4 linked regions of the Homo sapiens genome follow. The protein of the gene in region 1 interacts with the protein of each later gene in a pairwise test. Each region holds a gene or a part of one and is shown on either strand. Other genes may lie near its edges. The genes, in order: AQP6, MARCHF2, DNAJC30 and MARCHF5.

Region 1 (7,287 bases):
GGGTCAGGACTCCTACGGGGTCCAGTGGGTGAGAGGATGGGAGGGCGATCCTAAATCCCCTGCCTTCCTCTGCTCTGTCCCACCGAGAGGTGGGGAAGCCCTACAGAGAGGGAATGGGACAAATTCACTCCCAGATTCTACCTAGAAACGTAATGCCAGGGATAGGGCTTGTCCCCTCCAGCCCACCTGGTCAGGACAAAAGGTCAAGCCTCCCCCTCCCGCCACCCCCAGGGAGAACCTCCAGGCAGGTCCTGCAAGGCAGGAAGCCCAAGGGCGCGGCCAGGCGTAGGCTGTTTCACACACTCTCCATCTCCACGGCTCCCGAACCCGGCTGGGATTCCTTCTTCAGGGGCTCCGCCCCTGCCCCTGCCCCTGTCCCCACCTCTACGGTGCCTGTGAGGATAGCCAGCCGCTGCGCCAGGGTCTTGGTGTCGGGGAACAGGACGAAGTTGTAGATCAGTGAGGCCAGGAGGGCTCCCATCAGGGGCCCCACCCAGAAGACCTGAGGAGAAGGATGTCGTCACCCCACCCAGGAGCTATCAGGACCACAGGGTGGCTCTGGGACCGCTGCCTGCTTCCCCAGTGCCGACTTGATCTCCCAGGTCTCCCTCAACTGTCTGTAAGGTGCTAAATTTGAGAACCACGAGTCGTGTTTCCCAAGCCCACAAGGTAAGGGGACCTTGCCCCTTGCTCTCCCTGCCCTCCCTGGGGCTGAGCCCAGGCTCTGCAGCCGTGGCTGGGGCCTGGGGCCAGTCTCCTCACCCGCCCCCGCCTCTTTCCTCTCACTTCCCCCGTTTTAGCCAGGAGTCCTGGCTATTGCTGTTTCTGTCTCTGCTGGTGTGTGTGTCTATTTCTGTTTGTCTTTTTCTTTATCCAAGTTTGAAAATTGGTCCAGCTGGAGAAAGTGAATAAGGAAACAGCCAGGACTTAAAAGTCTGGGCCAAGGCTGCAGCTCCTGCCCTGGCCCATTTCTTGCCAGTCCACTGGGTATCCTGGGCAACTGAAGCCGAAAAGAAAGGAAGTCTCAGCCAAGACATTCACCCTGGCCTTCTGAGCTTAGGGAAGCTGCAAGTGAAACCCACCGTCTACAGGCAACTCAGGCTCCCTTCCCTCCCCAGGGCTGCCAGCAGAGGGGCTCACCCAGTGGACTGTGAACTTCCCAATGATGATGGCAGGGCCGAAGGAGCGGGCTGGATTCATGGAGCAGCCAGTGAAGTGGATCTGGGGAGCAAGTGCAGGGTCAGGGTGGGAGAAGGTTTAAGGCAGGCCTGAGAGGGGACCATTTCTCAGTCCTGGCTCAGAGCCTTAGCCCCAGCCACGGCCTCTGTAGTGCCATATCCTGGGCCTAGAGTGCAGGGGGTACCACTTTGGCTCCAAGGCACGAGGGGCTCAGGGAGGGACACTGCCTGGCCTTCAGGGCTCCACAGTTTCCCCGGGGACGGACCCGGTGTGTGCATGTGCACGGTGTCCCCTCTGTTCCTTACCCCAATGAGGTGGCCCAGTGCCACAGAGATCCCAATCATGGTGGCCGGGGAGCCTGATGTCTGACGGCTGTCGGTGGAAGCGAAGACACAGAGCACCAGCTGCAGGGTCAGAAGCAGCTCCACTGCCACCGCCTGGCCAGTTGAGACACTGTTCCGGACCTGGACAGAGGGAGTTACTCTGGACCAGACGCGGGCTCTGCCCACGGACAGACAGAGAAACCCCTGCCACTGGGCCTGGTCTCCTCAGCTGGAGGGGGGTGACACCTCACTGCCGCCCAGCTTCAGGACTTCGGGAGGCCTGTGCAGAGGGGTCCATATCTGCTCTGGACCCTTGCTCCCTGCAGAAGTGAGTGGTGCTCCTCCCACCCCACCAGTGGGTTGGTTGGGGCCAGTGGTTCAGGAGGCTTGCTTGAGAGGAGACTGGCAGCAGGTGTGGAAGGAGGAGATTTGGGGGAAGAAGGTGGAACACAGATGGTTACGAAATGGAGAAGGGGCGAGTGAGGCAGGCCTCGAGGTGGAGGGAAGAACTTGGGAACAGTCGGAGAGCAGAGGACGTGGGTGGAGCCTGGGAGAAAAATGAAGTCCCCGTGGGGTCCCCTTCTCTACCCACAGGCCCCGCACTCCCTTGGCCGCATCTACCCTTAAACGCCTGGTCCTTCTATTCCTTCTCCTTTATGTGGCCTCTTCCTTCTCCACCTGTTCTTCGCGCCACTATCCCATTTCTATTCTGCCTAGACTGAGGTCAAAGTCTCAGTCCTCTGGGTCCTGGGGCCCAGCCCGGGAGGATGTGGAGCCTGCAGCTGACTTGTTTCCTCCTTTGCTCCCTCGCCTCCGTCCTGGCCTCCACCTTCACCACTTGTGCGCATTCCCGCCTCCTGGCCCTCCAGGTGCCCCTCCCTGCACCTACCACGTTGATCCCAAGGGTCTCTCGGATGTCTCCCGGCATGACCCCATAAAGCAGAGCAGCCCCCACCGTGGCCCCCACCAGCTGGGCAGCCACATAGGCCACAGCACGGGGCAGAGAGATGTGGGAGCCTACGAGGAAGGCCAGCGTCACGGCGGGGTTGGCGTGGGCCCCGCTGGCCTTCCAGGTGACCTGCACAGCCATGGCGGTGACCAGGTTGAAGGTGATGGCAATCTGTAGCACGGAGGGAAGTGCTGTGGGCCAGCGCATGACTGAGCCCACGCCAAAGAACACATACAGCCCCGTGGCCAGGAACTCTGCAAACAGCGCCCTGCTGATGGCTTTCCAAAGCCTGCACGCCAACATGCTGGCCCAGCCACGTCCCCCTGGCTCCACTGCATCCATGTCCTGGTGCCTTGGCCGTTCCTTGCCTTGCTCTGGGGCCTCTTCTCTGTTCCTCTGGTCTCTGATCTCCTGTCTCTTCTGGTGTCCTGTCTCTGGCTGACCCTGGCTTTTGCTCTCTGTGGAGGCTTCTCTGGCCCCCACCTGCAGCTCCTCCACCACGCTCCTGTCCCCAGGACTGTGCTGGTCAGACTGGCAGGGCGCAGGCGGATGGGCTTATGCATGTGTATGGGGGTGGAATGAGGGGTGTTGCTCATATGCCTGCTCCAGCCTGAGCTGACCTGATGGGGTGGGATGTGGGGGCTGTCTCTGGGCACTGAGCTGGAACCTCCTACGATGATTTCCAGGGCGGGTTGGGCCTGACTCGTGTTGTAGACAGTCCAAGGTCTAGCCTGAGGGTCGCAGGTGCAGGGCAGCGGGGCTCATGGGATTTCAGACTGTTCATGTTCCAATGTCAGCTTAGATACAGCAAGATCACTCAGATCCCCGGCCTGCTTCAGGGGGTCCTGTGCATTCCCAGGTCCTGTTCGTCTGGCCCCCTCCATATCTAGGCTTTGCTTCCAAATGGGCTGACACCACACCGTGCCCGTAAACCCAGAAAGTAAGTTCCCTCCTCCACTCCCACCTATACCCGCACTCACAGAATGCAGATGTGAATACAGTCGACTTTACCAAGGACGCTGTGGACACTGTGGCCTGTGGGGTTGCAGAGGGGCGGGTGGAGAAGGGGTTTATTCCACAGCGACTCAAACCGCGTCAGATCACACAAGGCCATGGGCACCTCTGCTGTCCACCAGGGGAAATTTCCACTGGCCCTTCACTCACTTCCTCCTGCCTCCCTGCCCTCCCCCGCGCTCCCCTCCCTTCTTGGCTCCTCCGTCTCTGCTCTCCTCCTCTCAGGGGCCAAACAGATTTCACTCCTTTCTCACACAAGGCAGCTTAACCATTTTTTGTGGCTGCACTGGCCCTATGGTCACCCATGCCCTAGGCTTTCCCTGGCCCTATGGTCACCCATGCCCTAGGCTTTCCCCTTTTAACCCTAGCAGATAGCAAGGTATCTTCTCAAACAAAAGTGTTCCTCCCTAAGAAGAGTCTGCCAAGCTATTGAAATAACAGTCTTCCCCTCTTCACCGTAGCTGGGTGTCCTGACCTCATCCCTGGCATATCTACCTGCCTACAGATGTCCCCTGGTTGTTCTCAGGCTCCTCAAACGCAATCTGTCTCCAGATGTGATCCTCCTGTCTCCTGGTACCCCCCCCAACCCCCATGTTCTCCTCTTGTTTTCTGCAGCTCAGCTGGTGGCATCTGGGAAGCATCCTTGACCCTTTTCTCCCTCCTTCCCCCATCCAGGAAAAGCATCAAGTCCTGCTGATTTTCAATCCTAAATATCTCCTGACTGTGCCCTCTTTTTGCCACCCCTGCCGCCCTGCAGCCTTTCACCAGTCTCTCTGTCTGCTCCCTTGCTCCGTTTCAATCAATTTTCCATACTGCAGCCCAAGTGCTAAAATGCAAATCTGATCATGCTGCTCCCCTGCTAAAATCCCTTCCAAGCCTCCCATCCCTCTGGAAGCTCTGTGCCTGCCTTCAGGGACCCTGCAGCTCTCCCTCACCTCTCCCCACTCTGTTACCCTCTGGTTTCACCAAATGCACACTCTTGCTGGCCTCTCCTTGGAAAAAGCTCTCTCCTCTTCTTGGAGATCCCTTGCACTCCCTTTGCTTGGGTAACTCCCATTCCAAAGGCTCAGCTTTGACGTCGCTTGCTCCTTTCCTGGGTGGGGACCCTTCTGCGTGCTCCCACCACACCTGGGCATTCTCCTACACTGCAGTCACCACAGGGTGTTGTCATGGTGTGAATGTGTCTCCCCAGTGAGGCAAGGCGGGGAGGCCTTTGGGGGGCGGGAACCAAGTTTTGTTCACCCCTGCATGTAGTGTCTTGCACAGAGATTGGCACAGTAACTGCCCAATAAATATTTGTTGAATGAATGAATAAAAACTTCTTGACTTCCCGGGGCAGATGACTATGTCTGCTGCATTTCAGCCTCATACTCATACCTTCCCCCAACTGGGACTGAGCCCTCTGATATCTTCAAGAGAAACATCTTAACTCTGGACTACAGGCTCTGTTCCTCCCCAGTCCCTGTCTGAGTCCCAGTAACATCCCTCACCCATTTCCTTCTGTTCTCCCTGCTGTCTCGACTTCACCATGTCCTCTCCAGGGAACTCCTGGGCATCTCACCCTGAGCAGGCTCTTGCCAGCGCTCCGTGGTCCTGGCTCCCTGTCCTCTCCACCCCGTCCCTGCTGCGTGTCTCTGTTCTCATCCTCTTCCACGCCTTTCTGCCCCCCATCTGCGCTGCTGAGCACTGCTGGAGAAACTCACCCAGTCGTGCAGACTGCTACCATGACAAGTTCATGGTCTCTGGCCCCAGTAGGGATCGCAGCTCTGCTCAGCAATCCTTCCACAGCTCTCCCCTCATTCTTTAAACCTCCCCCACTCTCTTCAAGTATTCGACTCACTCTGGCTTTCTCTCAGCAGAGCACCCACCCTTGCCTCCCACCCTACCTAGAAAGCCAAGCTACCAGGCAAGACTTCTTCCCATCCTCCCTCCCAGCCAAACTCACCTGCAGCTGCCCTGTGGCCTTGAAGTAGGGGCAGCCCTTCTCCAGTGTACAAGTCGGGGTCGGGGGACCCTCCTTGGACTTCTGGCTCCCTTTGAGTGACTGGGACCCTCTCTTGGCCTTTCCCAGTCTCACCTGTGGCTTTCAGGCTTCCCCTTCTCTTGACTTCTTCCCTATAAACGTGCCTGCGTAGTCGCGGAGCAGTGAAAGATCATGATTTGGAGTCAAGGTTCCAGCCACCTATCCACTGCACAACAGCCCCCAGCCCCCGGCTACCGAAACCGCTCTGGCAAAGGCCAGCATGATTTCCTCTCCAGCCCACTGTGGCACATGGGCTGCCGGCCATCTTCCTGACGCCTCTTTTTCCCTGCCTTTGAGGCACATCTCCTGGCTGTCCTCCCATCTCTGTGAGGGCAACTCTGCCACGTGGCCTCCATGGCTGGCTCCTCTTCTGCTGATCCTTAAGCCCAGGACTTGTCTACTCCTGGCCCATGGCCCCTCACTCCTGATGAGTGTGCCTGGGCAGCCCTGTTCCCACCTGTGACTTCCACACCCTGCAGATACTGTCGACTCTCAACACTGTCTCTGGCCCAGATCTTTCTCCTAAACTCCAGACCCACTCACCTCTCACTGGACCCTCCGGCTTGCTCCTCCTCACCCTACTCTCACTCAGTTGCCCAGGCCAGAACACAGGAAGCATCTGGTGCTTCCCCTTCCCCCAGCCCATAGCAAATAGGTTCCTTGTACCAGGTTCCTGGTAGCTCTTTCTCATATTTGACACCTCTTTCCATCCCCACTTGCCACTGGCCCAGTGCAGCCCTTATCACCTCTCCAGGATGACTGCATTAACCTCCTTCCTGGGCTCTCAGACTATGTTGTGCCCTTCCACACCACTCTCCTCTCCACTCACTGTCAGAGAGATCCTTCCAAAATGCAAAGCTCATCAAGTTACTCCTCTGCTCTAAAGCTTTCAATGGCTCCCCATTGCCTCAGAATCAGGTCTGAATACCCATGTTTAACATGCAAGGAAGGCTCCCCTTCCACTGCCCACCCTGCACCCTTTACTCCAAACAGGCCAGACATATTTCCCCAGAACGAGCCCTTTGCTGTGGAGTTTGGATGCCTCTCCTTTTTGTCTCTCAAGACTTTGCTCAAGTGCTGTTCTTCTGCGAAGCCTGCCCTCATTTCCCTCTCCAGCAGAATCAGGGCAAGCTTCTTAGAGAAGCAGGGCTTGAGCAAAGCCAGGGGCTGGTTGTGGCCTCTGCCTCCTCAATGCCTCCACTGTTCCAGCACAGACATCCATCCCTGGCTGGCATAGAGGGGTCATTCAATAAATGCTCAAGGGATGACTGGGCATGGCTGTGGGGGCGGCGTGGGCACTGTTCCTCCCTGGCACGGGGGGTTCCCTGGCTGGGGGCTGTCCCAGGGTAGCTCAAGGGCACTTGTCTGCTTCCCTCACTTCAGGCAGGGCGAGTAGAGGGCTTGGTGGACAGGCACTTTCATCTGACCTAGCCTCAGTTTCTGCCCTTGTTAAATGGGCGCCACGTGGCAGCAATGCTTACCTGTTGAGAGCTGCTGATGAGGCCACTGAAAGGATTGTGAACACTGCCATGTGTATTGCACCCTAAGCAGTTGCTTAACCTCAAGATCCTCATTTATGCAGTGGGGATGATGCTAATAATTCCCTCCTCCCTGTGTGTAGTTAGGAGTAAATGTGCTGATACCTAGGAGAGGGCCTCCAAGTCAGAAAATGTGAATGATTAGGATTGTAACTTCCCTGCCCCCTGCCGTTAGACAGCTGTGGGGACGGGGCTGCATGGCGGCTCCAAGACAGGCACCTCAGCACCTGCCCTGGGCCTTGGAGCCTGAAAGTGCTAAGT
Region 2 (7,383 bases), on another chromosome or scaffold:
GGAGTACAGTGGCCGATCTCAGCTCACTGCAACCTCCACCTCCTGGGTTCAAGGGATTCTCCTGCGTCAGCCTCCCGAGTAGCTGGGATTACAGGCACCCACCACCATACCCGGCTAATTTTTGTATTTTTAGTAGAGACAGGGTTTCACCATGTTGGCCAGGCCAGTCTCGAACTCCTGACCTCGTGATCCGCCCACCTCAGCCTCCTAAAGTGCTGGGATTACAGGCATGAGCCACTGTGCCTGGCCATGTTGTAGTCATTTCTCAATCCTCACTCCGTTTAAGAACAGCGTGAGAGAGCCACATCTCTTGACCCTCCGATCCTGGTCGGCCAGCCCCTGTGGTGGGCATCAGAGATATTTAGAGGCTAGAGGTCCACTCAAACCACAGAGGCCCAGGCCTGGAAGAGGCCAAACTTGAGGCTGGACACAAAGAGAGGGTGACTGCAAGTCGGACTCAGCTCTGAGGCTGCTGAAATGGGAGAGTGATCTGATGGCTCCAGCAAACTTGGCCCAGTGCCCAGGAGATTTATTTCTCTTCTTTCTTTTGTCTGGTTTTTTTTTTTGTTTTTTTTGTTTTTTTTTTTTTGAGATGGAGTTTCACTCTTGTTGCCCAGGGTGGAGAGCAATGGCACCACCTCGGTTCTCTGCAACCTCCGCCTCCCAGGTTCAAGCGATTCTCCTGCCTCAACCACCAGAGTAGCTGGGATTACCGGTGCCCTCCACCCACAGCTGGCTAATTATTTGTATTTTTAGTAGAGACGGGGTTTCACCATGTTGGCCAGGATGGTCTCAAACTCCTTATCTCAGGTGATCCACCCGCCTTGGCTTCCCAAAGTGCTGGGATTACAGGCATGAGTCACCGCGCCTGGCCTATTTCTTTTCTTTCTTTTGTCTGTTTTTTTTTTTTTTTCTTTTGAGGCAGGGTCTCAATCTGTCACCCAAAAGGCTGGAGGGCAGTGTAGTAATCACAGCTCACTGAAGCTTCCACCGCCCCCAGGTTCAGGTGATCCTCCCACCTCAGCCTCCTGAGTAGCTCTGCACACCACCACATCCAGCTAATTTTTGTATTTTTTTGTAGAAATGGTGTTTTGCCAAGTTGCCCAGGCTGGTCCTGAACTCCTGGCCTAGTGATCTGCCCGCCTTGGCCTCTCAAAGTGTTGGGATTACAGGCATGAGCCACCACGCCCGGCCTGGAGATAGATCTCATTGAGTCTTCACAACAAACCAATAATTACACCCTATGATGGGGAAAGAGGCTGAAGCTCGGAGAGAGGCACCTACTTTCCCAAGGTCATATAGCTAGGAAGGGGTGGTGTCAGAATTTGAACTTAAAACAGTCCAGGGAGTGGTTCTGGACCTCAAGAGACCTGGGTTCTTTAACTCCTGGCCCTCCTGGCTATGCCACCGATGCTGGGTGTCCTGGTTCAAGTCACTTTGCTTCTCTGGGCCTCATTCTAATGATGGAGCTGGTGGACTCTGTCCGTGGAGGGGTCTCCTGAGAAGGAGCCTCCAGGCTGAATTCATCCAGTAAAGCTCACCCTTAGCTAGGCTTGTTTAGGGTGGCACTGAGGCCCCCCAGTCTTTTCCATACCTGCCCAGGCTCCTTTTCCTGAAGGTAGGAAACAGAGGGCAGAGGAATCAGAGGGCCCTAAAACTCCCTACATTGTGGTCTCAGGCAGCTGTTTTACTCTCTCAGCCTCAGTATTATCATCTCTAAAATGAGTGTTACAGGCCGGGCGCAGTGGCTCACGCCTGTAATCCCAGCACTTTGTGCACTTTGGGAGTTCAAGGAAGGTGGATCACTTGAGGCCAGGAGTTCGAGACCAGCCTGGTCAACATGGTGAAACCCCGTTTCTGCTAAAAAGACAAAAATTGGCCAGGCACGGTGGCGGGGGCCTGTAATCCCAACTACTTGACCAGGGTGAGGTAGGAATCGCTTGAATCTGGGAGGCAGAGGTTGCAATGAGCTCAGATCGTGCCACTGCATTCCAGCCTGGGCAAGAGAGAGAGACTCTGTCTAAAAAAAAAAAAGACGGGGAGTCATAATGATATGTAGTTCATAAATTAGTAAAAAATTAAGAAGTTAATAACTATTAGCTCTTATTATAATTACTATCATCAGCTTACAGAGTTGTTGATGAGAGGTCACACAGTCAACCCTGGCACACACAGTAAGTGCTCAATAAAAGCTCTATTAATATTTTTTAGGGTAAATGTGGAGGTTGTTATTGCATTCATTCCTCCCTGCATGAGAAGCAAGGTTCCAATCCCAGCTCTACTCCTTATGTGCTGTGTGGCCCTGGGCAAGACACTTAACCTCTTTGAGCCTGGACTCTCTCAACTGTATAACAGGGGACATTTCTACTGCTTCCACCTACTCAGTATGGTTTCAAAAGAACTGAATGAGCTCAACATGCCCATTTGACTACCCCGTTTTGAGCACCCACATAGCACAGGGCATCCTGTTTCAGCATCTTTGTGCAAAGTGGCTGGGTCATTATATTATAACTTACTATTTTGCAGGCAGAGCCGCTCTGAGAAGGAGGTTGGGGAAGGGCATTGGCCACTTAGCAGTTGCCTACTGTGTGTCAGGCGTTTTCTGCACCAGCCACCTCCTGAATCCTCCCAGAAGCCCCATCAGGTTGGCAATGGGATGACCCAGTTTCACAGGTGGGGAAACCGAGGCTCGGAGAGGCGCCTATGTGTGCCGGACCCCGGAGACCTCCCACCGGCCTTGACACGGGAACTGAGGTCCCCGCGTCCCCGAGAAGGCTGTGGCCAAGGGATCGAGCCCAGCCGTCCCGCCCGGGTGCCGAGCTCCGGCCTCGAACCCGGGGCCGGCCCGCGGACTGGCGTCCTCCGGCCCTACCTGCAGGCCCGTGCCTACCTGATCCGCGGCCGGGCCGGGCGGCCGCACAGGCCCCTCGGTTCGCCTCGGCCCCGGTCCCGGCCCGGCCCGGCCCGTCGGCGCCACTAGCTCCGCTCCGGCCGGCACCTGCGTCCGGGCACCGCCCGCCGAGCCGACAGCGCCGCGGACCAATAGCGACCGCCTCTCGCCTGCATTCGCCAATCGCCTTGCACGTCCCGCCCTAAGAGGCGGGGCCGGAGGCCACAGGGACGACTTGGGCCGCACAGGCCCCGCTGTGCCGCAGCTGCTGGCTCCGCCCCTGCCGCGTCTTGGCTCCGCCCCCAGCTCCGGCTCCGCCCCAGCACTGGCCCCGCCCCAGCCCCGCCCCAGGCACGAGGGGGTGCTGCTGCGCCACCTGCAGACGGCCAGCGTCCTCTAATAAATAAAACCTCTGCAGAATTTAACTTTTTTTTTTTTGAGACTGGCCGGGTGCAGTGGCTCATGCCTGTAATCGGAGCACTTTGGGAGGCCGAGACGGAAGGATCGCTTGAGGCCAGATGTTGGGGACCAGCCTGGGCAACATGGTGAGTTCCCGTCTCTACAAAAAATTTAAAAGGATGGGCGCGGTGGCTCACGCCTGTAATCCTAGCACTTTGGGAAGCCGAGGCGGGCGGATCACGAGGTCAGGAGATCGAGACCATCCTGGCTAACACGGTGAAACCCCGTCTCTACTAAAAATACAAAAAAATTAGCCGGGCGTGGTGGCGGGCGCCTGTAGTCCCAGCTACTCGGGAGGCTGAGGCAGAGGAATGGCGTGAACCCGGGAGGCAGAGCTTGCAGTGAGCCGACATCGCGCCACTGCACTCCAGCCTGGGTGACAGAGTGAGACTCTGTCTCAAATAAATACATAAATAAATAAATAATAAAATAAAATAAAATAAAAGTTAGCCAAGTGTGGTGGCCCAGGCCTGTAGTCCCAGCTGCTCTGGAGGCTGAGGCAAGAGGATCACTTGAGCCCAGGAGTTCGAGGCCAGTCTGGGCAACATAGTAAACTCACCCACCCCCATCTCTAAGACAGATCAATTTTTAAAAAAATACTGCACTATATGTTCACTTAGTATAAGCACACTTTTGCACATAATCACAGTATAACCTTCAAAATCAGAAAATTAATGTTCATCTAATATTATCATGTAATTCCCAGAGCCCATTCAAAGGCCAGGTGCAGTGACTCATGCCTGTAATCCCAGCACTTGGATCATTTGAGGTCAGGAGTTCGAGACCAGCCCGGCCAACATGGTGAAACCCTGTCTGTACTAAAAATACAAATAATTAGCTGGGTTTTGTTGTGGGCACCTGTAATTCCAGCTACTCAGGAGGCTGAGGCAGGAGAATTGCTTGAATCTGCAAGGTGGAGGTTGCAGTGAGCGGAGATCTTGCCACTGCACTCTAACCTGGGCAACACAGCCAGACTCTGTCTCAAAAAAAAGAAAAGAAAAGTTTCCAATAAAGTCCTTTAAAAATCCAAAGTCCAGGCCAGGCACAGTGAGTCATGTCTGCAATCCCAGCTCTTTGGGAGCCCAAGGCAGGAAGGTCTCTTGGGTCTAGGAGTCTGAGATCAGTCTGGGCAGCACAGTGAGACCCCATCTCTACAAAATAAAATAAAAATATTAGCCAGTTGTGGTGGCATCCTCCTGTGGTCCCAGCTACTTGGGAGGCTGAAGTGAGAGGATCAATTGAGCCCAGGAGTTCTGGGCTGCAGTGAGCCATTACCTCACCACTGCATTCCAGCCTGGGCAACAGAGCAAGATCCTGTGTCAAAAAACAAAAAATCCCAAATCCATCCCAGGATCAAGCATTGTATTTTGTTGTTAACGACTCTAATTTAGTCTCTCTTTCTGGAACATTTTATCAATCTTACCTTCTCTCCATGACATCAATATTTTTCAAAAATTCCAGGCTAGTAATTTTGCAGGAAGTCCTTCCATTGCTATTTGTCTAATACTTTCTCATGATTTTGCATTTGTGGCAGGAAACAGATGTGACGTTGTGTTTTCAGGATGCATACAATGCTGATTTTGTCCACTATCGATTGTGCTAACTTGGTTCAAATGGTGTCTGCCAGTTTCTCCAGTGTGAGGTTAGTATGTTACACTGTGGTGTTTTGTTGTTGTTGTTGTTTTTAATATTTTATTTAATTTTAATTTTTTTTTTTTTTTTTTGAGACAGAGTCTCACTCTGTCACCCAGGCTGGAGTGCAATGGTGTGGTCTCAGCTCACTGCAACCTCTGCCTCCCAGGTTCAAGGGATTCTCCTGGCTCACCTCCCGAGTAGCTGGGATTACAGGCCCGCACCACCACGCCCAGCTAATTTTTGTGTTTTTAGTAGAGGCAGGTTTCACTATGTTGGTCAGGCTGGTCTTAAACGCCTGACTTCAAGTGATCTGCCCACTTCCGCCTCCCAAAGTGCTGGGATTACAGGCAGGAGCCACCACGCCCGACCAATTTTTTTTTTCTTTTTTGGCGATGGAGTCTCATTCTGTGGCCCAGACTGGAGTGCAGTGGCGCCCTCTCTGCTCACTGCAACCTCCGCCACCGGTTCAAGTGATTTTCCTGCCTCAGCCTCCTGAGTAGTTGTGATTACAGGCCCGCACCACCACGTCCAGCTAATTTGTGTATTTTTAGTAGAGATGGGGTTTCGCCATGTTGGCCAGGCTAGTCTTAAATTCCTAACCTCAGGCATGAGCCACGGCACCTGACTTTACACTTTGTTAATAAGTGCTTTCTGGGGAGATACTTCGAAAGTAATTAAATAGCCTGTTCCTCAACACACGCCGTTTCCAAGAGCTTAATATCAATTGATGACCCTTGCCTGAGTCAGTTATTACCATAATAGCAACCAAATGGTGATTTTCTTTTTTGAGATGGAGCGTTGCTCTGTCGCCCAGGCTGGAGGGCAGTGGCGCGATCTCGGCTCACTGTAAGCTCCGCCTCCGGGGTTCACGCCATTCTCCTGCCTCAGCCCCCCGAGTAGCTGGGACTACAGGCGCCCGCCACCACGCCCGGCTAATTTTTTGTATTTTTTTTTAGTAGAGATGGGATTTCACCGTGTTAGCCAGGATGGTCTCGATCTCCTGACCTGGTGATCCGCCCTCCTTGGCCTCCCAAAGTGCTGGGATAACAGGCGTGAGCCGCCGCGCCCGGCCCCAAATGGTGATTTTCTAATTCCATCTTGGGGCATTTCCTTACTAACTGGCTCAACAAACTCTTCCAGGCTGACTTGTCTTGTCTTTTGCCTGCCCCAGGCCTGGACTCAACCATTTTTCCGAAGAGCCCTGGTTCATTTTAGTGGCGAATGATATTTTATTTATTTATTTATTTATTTATTTATTTATTTATTTATTTAGAGACGGAGTCTCGCTCTGTCGCCCAGCTGGAGTGCAGTGGCGTGATCTCGGCTCACTGCAACCTCCGCCTGCCGGGTTCACGCTATTCTCCTGCCTCAGCCTCCCGAGTAGCTGGGACTACAGGCGCCCGCCGCCCCACCCGGCTGATTTTTTTGTATTTTTTAGTAGAGACGGGGTTTCACCATGTTAGCCAGGATGGTCTCGATCTCCTGACCTCGTGATCTGCCCGCCTCGGCCTCCCAACGTGCTGGGATTATAGGCCTGAGCCACCGCGCGCAGCCAATTTTTTATTTTATTTTATTTTGAGATGGAGTCTCCCTCTATTGCCCAGGCTAGAGTGCAGTGGTGCAATCTTGGCTTACTGCAACCTCTGTCTCCTGGGTTCAAGCGATTCTCCTGCCTCCGCCTCCTAAGTAGCTGGGAATACAGGTGCACGCCACCATGCCCAGCTAGTTTTTTTGTATTTTTAGTAGAGACGGAGTTTCACCGTATTGGCCAGGCTGGTCTCAAACTCCTGACCTCGTGATCCACCTGCCTAGGCCTCCCAAAGTGCTGGGATTAAAGACGTGAGCCACTGTGCCTGGCCTTAATTTTTAAATAATAGAGACGGGGCTTGCTATGAGGCCCAAGCTAGTTTTGAGCTCCTGGGCTCAAAGGATCTTCCTGCCTCGGCCTCACAAAGTGGTAGGATTACAGGCGTGAGCCACTGTGCCTGGCAGATAATTTCATTTATTTATTTATTATTTATTTATTTATTTATTTATTTTTGAGATGGAGTTTCACTCTATCGCCCAGGCTGGAGTGCAATGGAACGATCTTGGCTCACTGCAACTTCTGCCCCCAGGTTCAAGCAATTCTCCTGCTTCAGCCTCCTGAGTAGCTGGATTACAGTCACTTGCCACCATGCCCATCTAGAATTTGCATTTTTAGTAGAGACGGGGTTTCATCATGTTGGCCAGGATGGTGTCAAATTCCTGATCCTAGCACTTTGGGAGGCTGAGGTGGGTGGATTACTTGAGGTCAGGAGTTCAAGACCAGCCTAACCAATATGGTGAAACCCCATCTATAATAAATATACAAAAATTAGCCGGGCATGGTGGTGTGTACCTGTAGTCCCAGCTACTCA
Region 3 (7,471 bases), on another chromosome or scaffold:
AAGTACATATCCCCTTCCCCCAAGTCCAGGCTCACTGAGCCAAACAGGTCTGAACCAGATTGGGCTCAAATCTTTTTTTTCTTTTTCTTTTTTTTTTTTTTTGAGATAGGGTCTAGCTTTGTAGCCCAGGCTGGAATGCAGTGGCAGGATCGCAGCTCACTGCAACCACGACCTCTCAGGCTCAAGCGATTCTCCCACCTTAGCCTCCTGAGTAGCTGGGACTACAGGCACTTGCCACACCCGGCTAATTTTTGTGATTTTTGTAGAGATGGGGTTTTGCCGTGTTGCCCAGGCTGGTCTCCAACTCCTGAGGTCAAGTGATCCACCCGCCTTGGGTGGATCCCAAAGTGTTGTGCCAGGCCCCAGATCTTCATTACTGCATCATATGATCACTGCAAAGCCTGGAGTAGGGGCATACCCCCAACCTCCGAGGCAAGAGACAATCAATGGTTTCCCTTTTTTTTTTTCCTTTTCAGGCTAGATTGGCACAATGATGGAATGGTTTTCAAGAGGCCAAGTAGGACCAGCTGTGGGTTTATCCCATTTTACCTAAGGATTTTACACAATACATTGAGTGCAGGAATGGCACGCAATGATTGCACTCAGTAATATACCAAACCACTCCTGGCTTTGTTTAGACCCTAGACTTGGGCCCTCATCCTTCTCGTAGACCTCTTGCGAGGATTTTCCCCTTTTACAGATTCACACTCAGTCCCGAACAGAAACACTTGAGCACCTACAATCTCACAGCCAACTCCCTGCCAACGTCCAGTGACTCACAGTTAAGAGAGCTTCAGCAGCAGCTCTGACCAAAGTGATGACCAACTACTTAACATGAATTAGAAACAGAGCAGAAAAAACACGCCTTTAGCCTGCTCTGCGTAAAGAACCAAGTCTCCACCATGAACACCAAGCCACCAACTCCCCGTCCCTCAGTAGTCCTGTGTACTCCCAAAGCCCCAAAATTTACCCCAGCCTCAAGCAGCCTTGTTTAAAAAATTAAGGAAGGGCCTGTGATAAGCACTGCAAGTTAAACAGAAACAGGGGACTTAAGTGCAGAGTTTGTCACTCTATTTCTGGGAGGGGATGGGCTGCACAGTGTGCAATGGGGCTGGCTGGTAAAGGGAGGACCAGGTGACAGCCAGCCACACTGTCTCAAGGATGAACCTGGCCCTGCTAGCATTATGCTGTAATCCCTGTGGATTAGAACTATGGATAATAGGGCCGGGAGCAGTGGCTCATGCCTGCAATCCCAGCACTTTGGGAGGCTGGACGGGCAGACAGCCTGAGGTCGGCAGTTCGAGACCTCAGTCTGGCCAGCATGGTGAAACCCCGTATCTACTAAAAATACAAAACACTAGCCAGGTGTGGTGGGAGCCTGTAATCCCAGTTACACAGGAGGCTGAGGCAGGAGAATCGCTTGAACCCGGGAGGTGGAGGTTGCAGTGAGCTAAGATCGCACCACTGCACTCCAGCCTGGGCAACAGAGCGCAAGACTCCATCTCAAAAACAAAACAAAACAAAAAACCCCCCAAAAACTATGGATAATAAAGCATGACAGACCTCAAGATGCCAAATGATTTTCTCCTCTGCTGTCATGCCTACAGAGTAACTTCTCCAAGGTCACACATTAAATATGGGCACAGGAACACTCATTCCTTATGCTCAATGACTTTTTCTCACTCCTACATGCTATCAACATAAGGAGGAGTGCCCCAGGGGGCTGACCTTAGCGGGAGGAACGACAGGCTCTCCACCGATCCCATTCTTACCCTGGACCAGGTCTCACCTGCGGCTTGGGGAAGTCACAGAAAGACAAGTTTCGTACAACCCCAGACCTTTTCTTTTGGTAGTCAACAATTGGTCACATTGCACATTTCAAGGTTACAGAGGCCCACCATACACATGCGGGGCAGGAGGAGATAAATCTTGCTTGGGGCTAAACAATAAAGCTACAGCGAGTGTTCCAGAAGTTGACCACATCTGGAAGCAAGAAGACAGACTCTGGAAGAAGCACCCTAGAGACTCCAGGAACCCCCTTCACTCCTGGGCTTTCGGGACTCTACAGCGTGGGGCCTCTTTCTCAGACATCGAAAGGCCTCCTTTTCTGGACCACAGTGGAGCGATGTGCAGGTCATCGGCTAAGCTGGGCGGGTCGGGGAGGGCAGGGGGAGTACAGTTCCTTCGGATCCCAGCAAAGGTAGACTATCAATGGCCAAGGGTTCAGAGGCAGGAAAAAAGGCCGTTTCTGGGGGGTTGGCTGGGGACACTCCCCTTCCCTTCTCTCTCCGATTAAATATAAAAGCCGATGATGATGAAGATTGAAAAGATGAGGAAAATGGCAGCCGTGTCTCGGGTATCCTCCCAGCGGAGGCCTTTCATGGACCGATACTCCTGCCGTTTGCGAAGGGCCTCCCGCCGGGCCCTCAGGCGCCGTTCCCGCTCCAGTTGTTCCCCGTAGTGGGCCTGGTAGAAGGCGTCAAAGTTGAACATCGTGCGGTTGGCGCCGGGGGAGGCCCGAGAACCGTCGTGGGTCCGAGAGGTGGGCGGCGGGGTACGCGGCGAGCCGGGGTCGGGTGCGGGCGTCCTGGAGGGCCGGACGCCAGGTCCGCGCAGGTCCTCGTCGCTGAGTAGGCCGCGATCATACTTGCGACGGAGGGTGGCACTGCCCAGCACCACGTAGGCCTGGGAGATGCGCGTGAAGCGCTCGGCGGCCTCCGCGCTCCCGGAGTTGCGGTCCGGGTGGTAGAGAAAGCACTGACGGTAGTAAGCCGCCTTGATTTGGGCCTGCGTGGCTGTGGAGGGGACGCCGAGCAGATCATACAGCGCCGTGCGCGAATACGAGCAGTCGCCCTGGGAATAAGTCCTCGCTCCTAGGCCCAGGCTGGGTGCAGAATTTTGTGGAAAGCCACGGGCCTGCAGCAACCTCCAAGGTAACAGCCGCTGCCACCATCGCCAGCGCATGGCTGCCATGTTGAATTGATTCGGCAGGCGGTGCAAGAGAAACCGGCCAATGAGAGGAGTCGGTTGGTCGCCCTGTGGCCAGTCACGTAAAGGGGGGGGCGGGGCGGTCGTGGGGGTGGAACATGCGTATTACTAAGCGGTCGCCGGGCTGATGACATAAAAACCGGGTGCCGGCAGGCGCCAGTCGCAGGTGTGCTGCTGAGGCGTGAGAATGGCGTCCCGCGGCCGGCGTCCGGAGCATGGCGGACCCCCAGAGCTGGTAAGTCCCGGGGCCCGCGGACACCCCTCTCCCCACTTCTGCGGCCACCGCGTCTGAATTATTCCTCTACATGCCATTTTCTCTTTTTCGCAGTTTTATGACGAGACAGAAGCCCGGAAATACGTTCGCAAGTGAGGGGAGCCTGAATACTGCGGGGCGTCCGGGGGTCGGGAAGCGGCAAGTTGCCCCTGTTGCTGGCGTTGCCCGGAAAGGCCGTAGAATTTGGGGGTGCGGGAAGGGAAGGACCCGGGTGGGTGCCGATTTCTGTCTCTGGTAAATCAACTTTAAGTTGCCGACCTCTCTGGGCCTCGGTACCTCAGCGTTGAGGTAGGGGTGATCGCGCTTGCTTTCCGTGGGTGGTTTTCAAAGTCGAATGTGACAATTTGTCCTAAACATGTGGTAAAAGAGGCGCTGGGCGGTGGGTACGGGCGAGGGGTCAGTCCTGGTGGGGGGAAGGAAGTAATGGCCGTAGGATGCTTATCGTGGCGCCTTGTTGCCAATAAATCTCCAAGACAGCAGTTGGTGTATTATTGTCTGAATTTCATAGAGGGTAGTTTGTATAACTACTGAGTTGTAGCCAGGTGGGAGTGGCTCACGCGTGTAATCTCAGCAATCGCAGCACTTTGGGAGGCTGAGGCGGGAGGATCGCTTGAGCTCAGGGGTTCGAGACCAGCCTGGGCAACGTAGCGAGCCCCCGTCTCCGCAAGTAATAAAAAAATTAGCCGGGTGTGGTGGCTCCCCTCTGCCTCTCCAGTAGTTGGGACCACAGGCGCGCGCCACTACGCCTGGCTTTTTTTTGTAAATTTTTGTTGCGATGGGGTCTCGCTGTGTTGCCCAAGGTGGCCCAAGCCCAGGGCTCAAGCGATCCTCCCGCCTTCGTCTCCCGAACTGTTGGGATTGCAGGCGTGAGCCAGCGCACCTCGAGTCGTTAAAAAAAAAAAAAAGGGGGGGGGATGGGGGCGGGGGGAAGCTGGCGCGGTGTCTCACGCCTGTAATCGCAACACTTTGGGAGGCTGAGGCAGACGGATCACCTGAGGTCAGGAGTTCGAGACCAGCCTGGCCAACATGGCGAAACTCCAGCTCTACTAAAAATGGAAAAAATTAGCCGGGCGCGATGGCGGGTTTCTGTAACCCCAGCTACTCGGGAGGCTGAGGCAGGAGAATAGCTTGAACCCGGGAGGGGGAGGTTGCAGTGAGCCGACATCACGGCACTGCACTCCAGCCTGGGCGACAGAGCAAGACTTTGTTTCAAAAAAAAAAAAAAAAAAAAAAAAAAAAAAAAAAAAGATACTTTGTGGTTTTTCCGTGCTCTCTCACTGAGAGACTAGCCCTATTTCAGTAAATGGTTACTGGCCGGGCGCTATGGCTCATACCAGTAATCCCAGCCCTGTGGGAGGCGGAGGTGGACGGATCACCTGAGGTCAGGAATTCCGAGACCAACCTGGCCAGCATGGTGAAATCCCGTCTCTACTGAAAATACAGATATTAGCCGGGCCTACGGGAGGCTGAGGCAGGAGAATCACTTGAACCTGAGAGGCAGAGGTTGCAGTGAGCTGCGATCGCACCACTGCACTCCAGCCTTGGCGACAGAGTGAGACCCTGACTCAATAAATAAATAAATAGCTATTGGATACTGTTTCTTTTTTTTAGGGACAGGGTCTCTCTATTGCCCAGGCTGGAGTGCCATGGCATGATCCCTGCCGACTGCAGCCTCAAGCCATCCTCCCCAGCAGCCGGAACTAGAGGCACTCGCCACCACACCGGCTGAAATAGCTTGATAATTTTTTGTGCGTGTGAGACAGGCTCTCATTCTATCGCCCAGGCCGAAGTGCTGCAGTGGCTGCAACCTCGCCTCCCGGGTAGTTGGAACTACAGGCGCGCCTCCTCGCGCCCGACTAGTTTGTGTAATTTTTTTGTGGAGAGGGAGTTTTGCTATGTTGCCCAGGGATCTGGTAAGTTGCTCACGGGATCCACCCGCCTTGGCCTCCCAAAGTACTGGGATTATAGGCGTGAGCCACCAGGCCCGGTCCTTGCTGATGACTTTTTATGTCGATTATATGTTGAAGTGATATTTTGAACATATTGAGTTAATGGAAATACGTTATTAAATATATGGGGTTAAAAATATGACTCCAGAGGCCGGGCGCGGTGGCTCACGCCTGTAATCCCAGCACTTTGGGAGGCCGAGGCTGGCGGATCACAAGGTCAGGAGATAGAGAAATCCTGGCTAACATGGTGAAACCCCGTCTCTACTGAAAATGCAAAAAAAAAAATTAGCCGGGCGTGGCGGCGGGCGCCTGTAGTCCCAGCTGCTGGGGAAGCTGAGGCAGGAGAATGGCATTAACCCGGGAGGCGGAGCTTGCAGTGAGCCGAGATCGCGCCACTGCACTCCAGCCTGGGCGACAACAGAGCAAGACTCCGTCTCAAAAAAAAAAAAAAATATGACTCCAGTTTCTTTTACCTGTTTCTTTAAGTTTCTTCTTGACTGGCTATTGGGAAGCCATGCGTGGCTCACATTCTGTTTCTCACAGACAGTGCTGCTGTAGGTTTTTGTGCATTGTTGATCCTTCTAGATGAGAGAAACTATGGAGAATAATTTTTGGAGAAAATGTTTTCAACAAGTGCTAGAGCAGCCCAGCCTAATAGAGTTGCAGATCCCAGTGGTTGTTTATTACTAGCTAAGTGATTTGCTTTTACACATCTGCTTGGCAGCTGGTGCAATGATAAGTTGTTACCACAAAATAACATGGTCCTGAATTACATGGAATTTTTGGGGTCACTTTCGAATGGTTGAATTTGTTGATCCCAACTTAGAAGGGGTCAGAAAAGAGTACCTCGGGATGATTGATCCGTTTTTTGTTTGTTTTTAACTTGGCTTTTTTTTGTTTTTTGTTTTTTGGTCTGGGGGAAGTATTCACCCAGAACTCCTTTACCATGTCCACTTGTGTTTCTGCCTTACCAGCTCACGGATGATTGATATCCAGACCAGGATGGCTGGGCGAGCATTGGAGCTTCTTTATCTGCCAGAGAATAAGCCCTGTTACCTGCTGGATATTGGGTGAGATTCTGGGGCCTGGTTCAGATTGTCTAAGGTGGTGAAGTGTCTTTGTAAACTGACCCTGAGTGTCTGGTCATGTCTTCCAGCTGTGGCACTGGGCTGAGTGGAAGTTATCTGTCAGATGAAGGGCACTATTGGGTGGGCCTGGATATCAGCCCTGCCATGCTGGGTAAGTATGTCCTGTCTGGCACCAGGGTGGATTACCCTGATGGGTGTGGAGAAGCCACAGGTATTTCTCTTTCTCTGACTGCCTTTTCTCTAATGTAGATGAGGCTGTGGACCGAGAGATAGAGGGAGACCTGCTGCTGGGGGATATGGGCCAGGGCATCCCATTCAAGCCAGGCACATTTGATGGTTGCATCAGGTGAGGGTCTTTAATTCCTGCTTTTATTTATTTAGAGACAGGGTCTCACTCTATCACTTAGGCTCTAGTGCAGTGTCTGTGATTATGGCTCACACTGCAGCCTCCACCTCCTGGGTTCAGGTGATCTGCCCACCTCAGTCTCCTGAGTAGCTGGGACTACAGGCCCACACCACCGTACCTAGCTAATTTTTTGTTTTTTTGAGATGGAGTCTTGCTCTGTCACCAGGCTGGAGTGCAGTGGTGTGATCTTGGCTCACTGCAGCCTTCGCCTCCCAGGCTCAAGCGATTCTCCTGCCTCAGCCTCCCAAGTAGCTGAGATTACAGGAGCACGCCACCACACCCAACTAATTTTTGTATTTTTAGTGGAGGTGAGGTTTCACTATGTTGGCCGGGATGGTTTCAATCTCTTGACCTTGTGATCCACCCTCCTCGGCCTCCCAAAGTGCTGGGATTACAGGTGTGAGCCACCGTGCACAGCCTAACTTTTTTTGTATTTGTTGTAGAGATGGGTTTTTGCTATGTTGCTCAGGCGATCCACACACCTGGGCCTCCCAAAATGCTGGGATTATAGGTGTGAGCCACCCTGGCCTCTTTCTTCCTGCTTTTAGTCCTGCAAGCCAGTGCCTCCCAAACCTGGCTGTGCAGCAGACTCATGCAGATATTTACAAATACACATCCCATGGGATTTTCAGATTTACAAGGTTAGAGCAAGGCCCAAGAGTGTATTTTTTTGGATTCTAAAACTTTGCAGTCTGGCCAACATGGTGAAACCCAGCCTCTACTAAAAAGCCAGACGTGGTTGTTGTTTTTTTTTTTTTGAGATGGA
Region 4 (7,021 bases), on another chromosome or scaffold:
TTTGATTTAGATTTCACAGCAAGACAATTTCTGTGATGGGATTTGAACCAGGTGGTCTGATCGTAAAGTACTGTAATCCCACTGGCAAGAGGGACAGGTGTGATGATTCATGCATATGCCAGGAGAGAAAGCACCTACAACATAGTTCCAAAAGGCCAGAACTGCTGCAGTGGTTTCTCCTCTTTTTATTTCCACTCAAGCTATTGAATGATAGTGAGGCTCAAATAGAGGCTTAATGCATAGGAGCCACAGACCGAATATTTATACAGTTCCCCACCTTTTAAAAACAAATACACTTCATTCTCTTTTGCAAGGTAATATAAGTAATGTTAAAGCCGTCTTACCAAGATTGTCCTTTGTAAATTAGAGTTAACACTACTGAACATCAATTTACCAACTATTGTAGCAATAGTAGGAAAGACAAGGGCTCCACACAAGATTCGAGTAGCAGAGACATGATCTGCTAAAGGATTGGCCTCAGCTGGAATTCGAGGAACAGGACAACCTATCCCTAGAGGAAAAAAATGCAGTGCGTTAGTGCTAATAAATCAGAAGAGTTAGACTACCTTCAAACATGGCTAAAAAAGCATGTTATTGTTCTTCAAGATCAATTTGGTATGCACTTTACAACCACAGTTCAGTGCCTTACCTGGAAATATACTATTTAAAATTTGTAGTTTATTCGAGTATTTGCGCCACAGTCTAAGCACATAGTCCTCCCAGCGAATCATCTTGCCTAATATCAGCATGACAGGAATAGTAGGAAGTCCAATTAAAAGGAATAAAGGATCAGCTCTCTCCATAACATCCAGACCTTCTTTATGACCTACAACCTGTGAAACAGATAGCATATATTAGAATTACTTCTTTTTCAAATGAGGTGTTGCATGTTAAGCTCTATTTTTTTAATAGAAAATGCTTAATTTCAAAAGAATACACAGAAATAAAAAGTTTAAAAAATAAGCTGGAAAGCTATCAGTCCTGATTTATTTATAAGAAATGTCTCATTCAAGGGAAAAACAAAGTTCCCAAGCCATTTCATACCACACAGGAATAAAAATTAAAATGGCTGACCCAGACTGATTACATTACAATAGAGGGGCGGGGACCTCTGATTGTTGCTTCTATTCCTTTATTTGATTTGGTTAGACTGGGCTACGGAACTGGGATATAATTCTAAGTCCTATTTGTCTTCCAGCAAAACAACTGTTTTCCTGATCTTCCTTCTAGGAGATTAAGCATAGCCAGCCAAGAGGTAGGACCGGCCTTCAAGAGATGGCCTGAAAGCTCATTTCTCTTTGGCTCTTTCTCCTTACTTAGTGGTGTGTAAGATAGGGTGTGATGTCTCTGGCTGGCTAAGTGTCTACCCTACAGACCTAACCCTCCTTAAGTGCACTTCCAAGGTCTAGAATTGAGGGACTGTAGTAGGAGGTCCAGTTTTGGTTACAGATCCCAGGCATTTTTCCCAATTCAGGAACTCTAGGGTACCCTATCTATGGGGGTAATGAAGCTAATACAATCTTTTCCTTACCCTATCCTAGTCTTGGGGCTATTTCTAAATTGGTGTAGATCCCAGAAGGCGAGAAATACAAAATTGGCATTTGTGAACTTCTACCTTTTCCCTCTCTCCAAAATCCTTTTCACTTCCACATCAATCTTGGCCTTAAATTTACCTCTTTTTGTTGTTGTTTTTGAGATGGAGTCTCGCTGTGTTGCCCAGGCTGGAGTGCAGTGGTGTGATCTTGGCTCACTGCAACCTCCGGCTCCTGGATTCAAGCGATTCTTCTGCCTTAGCCTCCCGAGTAGCTGGGATTACAGGGGCATGCCACCATGCCCAGCTAATTTGTGTATTTTTAGTAGAGACGAGGTTTCATCATGTTGGCCAGGTTGGTCTCGAACTCCTGACCTCAGGTGATCAGCCTGCCTCGGCCTCTCAAAGTGCTGGGATTACAGGCGCGAGCCACCGTGCCTGGCCAAAAATTTTTTTTTTTTTTTTGAGACGGAATTTTTTGCTCTTGTTGCCCAGGCTGGAGTGCAATGGCACGATCTTGGCTCACTGCAACCTCTGCCTCCCAGGTTCAAGCAATTCTCCTGCCTCAGCCTTTCGAGTAGCTGGGATTACAGGTGTGCACCTCCACGCCCAGCTAATTTTTGTATTTTTAGTAGAGACGGGGTTTCTCCACATTGGTCAGGCTGATCTCGAACTCCTGACCTCAGGTGATCCACCCGCCTCGGCCTCCGACAGTGCTGGGATTACAGGCGTGAGCCACTGCGCCCGGCCCCAGAAATGTTTTATGAAAGTGTGTGGAGAGGACCAAATTTGAGCTATGGATATAGTCCAGATTTCCACTTGGTTAATTTATCTAATTAAGATGTAATATTAAAGGGCAGGAGGCTAGCCTCTTCCTAATGGTCAATAATGTCATCGAATTTGATATTCTTCTGTGTCTCCAGGTAGAACTTAACAACTTCCTATCTTGCATGTGGAAGGTGATCCTTTTGAGTTGCCCTAAAGTGAAATGGTCTGGTTTATGATATTTCATAAACCCCAATTCCATAATGGTAGCAAAAGTTAGCTGGCCATGACTGTTTTACCTATAATGATTTCCCAGGAAATTTCTTTATCTATCTATCTATCTATCTATCTATATATCTATCATCTATCTATCTATCTATCTATCTATCTATCTATCTATCTATCTATCTATCTATCTATCTGAGACGGAGTTTCAGTCTTGGCATGATCTTGGCTCACTGCAACCTCCACCTCCTGAGTTCAAGCTATTCTTCTGCCTCAACCTCCTGAGTAGATGGGATTACAGGCACATGGCACAACACCTGGCTACTTTTTTGTATTTTTAGTAGAAATGGGGTTTCACCACGTTAGCCAGGTTGGTCTCGAATTCCTGACCTCAGGTGATCCGCCTGCCTTGGCCCCCCAAAGTGCTGGGATTATAGGCGTGACCCACCACGCCCGGCCAGGAAATTCCTTTAAAGAAAAAAAAAGACAGGGTCTTGCTACGTTTCCCAGGTTGGCTTTGTACTCCTGGGCTCAAGCAATCTTCCCACCTCACCCTCCTGAGTAGCTGGAACTACAGATGAGTGCCACCACGTCTGGCTAAGAAATTCTATTTTTATATCATTAAAAATTTCAATATAATGATCACTCTAACATTATAACTAAATATGATTAAATATTCTCAAAGTGTTAGCAAATAAATTCAGAATATTTGAAAAAATCCTTTGTCGGGTTATGTGTCCTTTTTTTGGGTTTAGAAATATAAAGAAGAGTGAATATTCAGGTATAGACTAGAGCGAACAAGAGGAAGTTTGTTTCTCATGGGTAGCAGTAAAAACCTTATAAGGTGTTTAAGAATAAGGAAACAAAAAGGAAGTAGGGGTTGGGCACTGTGACTCACAATTGTAATCCTAGCACTTTGGGAGGCTGAGGCAGGCGGATCACCTGAGGTCAGGAGTTTGAGACCAGCCTGACCAACATGGTGGAACCCCGTTTCTATTAAAAATACAAGCCAGGCGTGGTGGTGGTCATCTGTAATCCCAACTACTCGGGAGGCTGAAGCAGGAGAATCGCTTGAACCCAAGAGGTGGAGGTTGCAGTGAGCCGAGATTGCACCAGCCTGAGCAACAAGAGTGAAACTCCATCTCAAAAAAAAAAAAAAAAAAAAAAAGAAGGAAATAGGGCAAAGAATGAGCAAAGGCCCAGTATTTCACTTGTTACAACTAAAGTGAAGAGAGATGCCCCATGCTCAAGCAAGTTAGAAGTGGGATGAGGCTCATCATTCACACATGCATTCATTCATTCACTGAATAATGATTTTGTGCTGGGGCTAAAATGGCAGGTTAAACAGATGTCTTTTGAAAGTGAGAGAAAATCAAACCAAACAAGTGTGCAAATATATACACTGTGAAGAAATAAGGTAGTATAACACCTGCAGTACACCACTTGCTAAAACAGTCATACTCAGGGGCAATAAATGAAAGGTGATTAAGCAATAGGCCTGATTTAATTTTGGCCAATACAAAGTCAGTGAACCTGTGTGTAATCACATACATTCTGCTTTCTTGTCCCAAGATTTAAAAACATTATTTTTAAGACTTCGATTTTGGGGTAAGCTCCAGGAATTATATAGAATGTCTAAGAATTTGTTATCTATGTATAAAATAAAGGCCTGGCTGGGCACAGTGGCTCACGCCTGTAATCCAAGCACTTTGGGAGGCTGAGGTAGGTGGGTAACTTGAGTCTAGGAGTTTGAGACTGGGCAACATGGTGAAACCCTGTCTCTACAAAAAATACAAAAATTAGCAGGGCGTGGTGGCATGTGTATGTAGTCCCAGCTGTGCAGGAGGCTGAGGTGGGAGGATCACCTGAGCCCAGGGAGTTCGAGGATGCAGTGAGCCGTGACTGCGCCACTGCATTCCAGCCTGGGTAACAGAATGAGACTCTGTCTCAAAAAAAAAAAAAAGAAAAAAAAAAAAGAGAAAAACAAAAGACCTATAGAATTGCAGGTTTAGAGAAAAATAATTTTTTGTTTTTCCTGCAGAAGGGCTAAAAGCTAGATTTTCATATCTAGGTAGGCCTGCAGTTCATTGCTGCTGAAAGGCTAACAGTTTTAATTAAGGTCTGAGCTTTTAAATTATTATTAGAATTCTACATTAATTAATTAGAGACAGAGTCTTGCTCTGTCGCCCAGGCTGGAGTGCAATCTTGGCTCACTACAACCTCTGCCTCCCAGGTTCAAGCGATTCTCACGCCTCAGCATCCGGAGTAGCTGGGAATACAGCCACTATGCCTAATTTTTTCTTTGTATTTTTGGTAGAGATGGGGTTTCATCATGTTGACCAGGCTGGTCTCCAACTCCTGGCCTCAAGGGTTCTGCCTGCCTCAGCTTCCCAACGTGCTGGGATTACAGGCATGAGCTACAGCACCTGGCCAGAATCCTAACAAGAGGATGAAACAGTGATGAAATAACAGGGTTTTTTTTTTTTTAACTCAGAATCAAGGATAAGTAAGTACTGTAATTAAGAATGGGCAATGCTAATGGGGGCTGTCTTTGCACTAGAGGCAAAAATGGGAACTAGGCTAAACATATTAAGGTTCCACTGTTCCAGGATAAAATGTTCCAGCTGCCTCTGGGACCAGGCTTCACTTAAGGAGCCAAGGGACAGGAGTCCTAATGCTTCTCTGCTGTGTGGCACTGGACCTGTAAACTCTCTAAACCAGTAAACTAGGAATAATTTATAACAATAATCTATGTCATAAAATTGTTGCAAGGGTTAAATGCATCAGTGCTAGGTGTTCAATACAGTGCCGAGAAAAAAAAATTATTGTGTTGTCTTTTCAATAAAAATGCAAGAGGAAGGTCCTATTCAAGTTCCCCACAACTAAAAAGTATTGATTCTATGACAGGTCCATGGAGAAGGAAAGAAAATAAATGGGAAAATAACAGTGATCTGATTCCTTGATTTGGTTTACTTGTACTGCAGGGTTGTTAAGGAATCAGAGAAAAACAATCAAGTGTTAGAAGGCAAACCCTAAATACTACTGATGGTGTAGAGGGGCACATTCTCTATCATATGTGCTCAGGAAGGTAAAAGTCATCTTCCCAATACTCTTAAATCACACAACACTATCCACCTACTGTCATAGCTAGTCTCATTTCTGGGCTAAAAAAAAAAAATCTTTTCAAGTGAGACATTACATGTGAAGGTTATTTCTAAATGGTAACACATATGTGTACTATAGTTTTTGCTTCCTTGCTTATTTCATTCTACCAATTCAAATTATTTCCTTTAAGGGTTAGCTCAAGACTTTTCTCATAATTTCAAATCAAATTATCTTTCACTTTTACTGAATTAAAATATTGTTTATATAGTCTTCTGCCCTCTTATCACATTTATCTATCTAACCTGTAACTGTTCTCCAGTGGTTTCATTTATGAACGTCTTGTCTTGGACTATATCCCTTGATGCTGGGGATCAGAGTTTTCAATTTATTTGTGTTTTAACAAGTGCCCCATTAATTATCAAAATTCTTTTAACATTGTGCCAGCCTAAAAATCTTTCTTAAAAAAGAGCCATCTCACTTCTTATGGTCAATAAAGTCTTAAGAAAATAACTCAATCTCATTTGCAAAATATATATATCTATATAATGTATTTGTACATTAAATAATGTATAATCTGCTCTAAGTTTCTATGTCTTTCTCAGTCTTAGTAAATCATCCTGATCCTCCCTCCTCAGGTGATGTACTAATACTCATTATTTGAAGTGGTCACATAAAAAACATAAAGACTGCCGGGTGCAGTGGCTCACACCTGTAATCCCAGCACTTTGGGAAGCAGAGGCAGGCAGATCATCTAAGGTCAGGAGTTCCAGACCAGCCTGACCAACATGGTGAAACCCCATCTCTACTAAAAAGACAAAATTAGCTGGGCGTGGTGGCACATGCCTGTAATCCCAGCTACTCGGGAGGCTGAGGCAGGAGAATCGCTTGAACCCGGAAAGCGGAGGTTGCGGTGAGCTGAGATCACGCCACCGTACTCCAGCCTGGACAACAAGAGCGAAACTCTGTCTCAAACAAAAAAACAAAAAACAAAACCACAAAGATTTATGAAACCCTTTAATGTGTTAGTTTCTATGTAGATGCTGTAACAGGGAATACAGAAGCATAAAATGGACTCTGCTTTCAAGGAAATTACCTCCTAACAGGAAAAATAAGGCCTAAAAACAAGAAAAGTTAAACAGATAATCTATATAAGAAATGTCACTTCATCAGGGCAGGACTAGCTGCCATTTGAGGAATAAAAATGTCATGAATGTGGGGGAAGAAGGAATCACAGCAGGCAGGAGTTGCCTGTAAGTTCTATGGAGGAAAGCTAGCTAAGCCTGGAAGGAGGGTTTAGATTTGGATAAGTACACAGAAGACTAGAAGGGCAGGTATTAGGTTGGGAAGGTGACGTAAGCCAAAGGACAGAGGTGAAAAACTACACAACATAAGGAT

The links.
Region 2: the proteins of AQP6 (region 1) and MARCHF2 interact in binary tests that used the Homo sapiens proteins (3 or more experiments, as listed by UniProt).
Region 3: the proteins of AQP6 (region 1) and DNAJC30 interact in binary tests that used the Homo sapiens proteins (3 or more experiments, as listed by UniProt).
Region 4: the proteins of AQP6 (region 1) and MARCHF5 interact in binary tests that used the Homo sapiens proteins (3 or more experiments, as listed by UniProt).

The regions. Positions count from the first base shown.
Region 1 is NC_000012.12:49,968,680-49,975,966, reverse strand, and holds the start of AQP6 (aquaporin-6), read right to left. Parts: upstream 3,021-7,287; 5' UTR 2,794-3,020; coding exon 2,392-2,793; intron 1,644-2,391; coding exon 1,485-1,643; intron 1,222-1,484; coding exon 1,141-1,221; intron 670-1,140; exon of another isoform or gene 503-669; coding exon 296-502; 3' UTR 1-295. UniProt on the Homo sapiens protein: Aquaporins form homotetrameric transmembrane channels, with each monomer independently mediating water transport across the plasma membrane along its osmotic gradient.
Region 2 is NC_000019.10:8,408,928-8,416,310, reverse strand, and holds the start of MARCHF2 (E3 ubiquitin-protein ligase MARCHF2), read right to left. Parts: upstream 3,007-7,383; 5' UTR 2,891-3,006; exon of another isoform or gene 2,517-2,890; intron 1-2,516. UniProt on the Homo sapiens protein: E3 ubiquitin-protein ligase that may mediate ubiquitination of TFRC and CD86, and promote their subsequent endocytosis and sorting to lysosomes via multivesicular bodies.
Region 3 is NC_000007.14:73,680,451-73,687,921, forward strand, and holds DNAJC30 (dnaJ homolog subfamily C member 30, mitochondrial precursor), read right to left. Parts: upstream 3,004-7,471; 5' UTR 2,974-3,003; coding exon 2,293-2,973; 3' UTR 468-2,292; downstream 1-467. Other genes in the region: BUD23 (18S rRNA (guanine-N(7))-methyltransferase), read left to right, coding at 3,204-3,223, 3,317-3,451, 6,186-6,281, 6,368-6,450, 6,549-6,645. UniProt on the Homo sapiens protein: Mitochondrial protein enriched in neurons that acts as a regulator of mitochondrial respiration. Associates with the ATP synthase complex and facilitates ATP synthesis.
Region 4 is NC_000010.11:92,343,161-92,350,181, reverse strand, and holds part of MARCHF5 (E3 ubiquitin-protein ligase MARCHF5), read right to left. Parts: intron 834-7,021; coding exon 650-833; intron 512-649; coding exon 345-511; intron 1-344. UniProt on the Homo sapiens protein: Mitochondrial E3 ubiquitin-protein ligase that plays a crucial role in the control of mitochondrial morphology by acting as a positive regulator of mitochondrial fission and as an important regulator of immune response.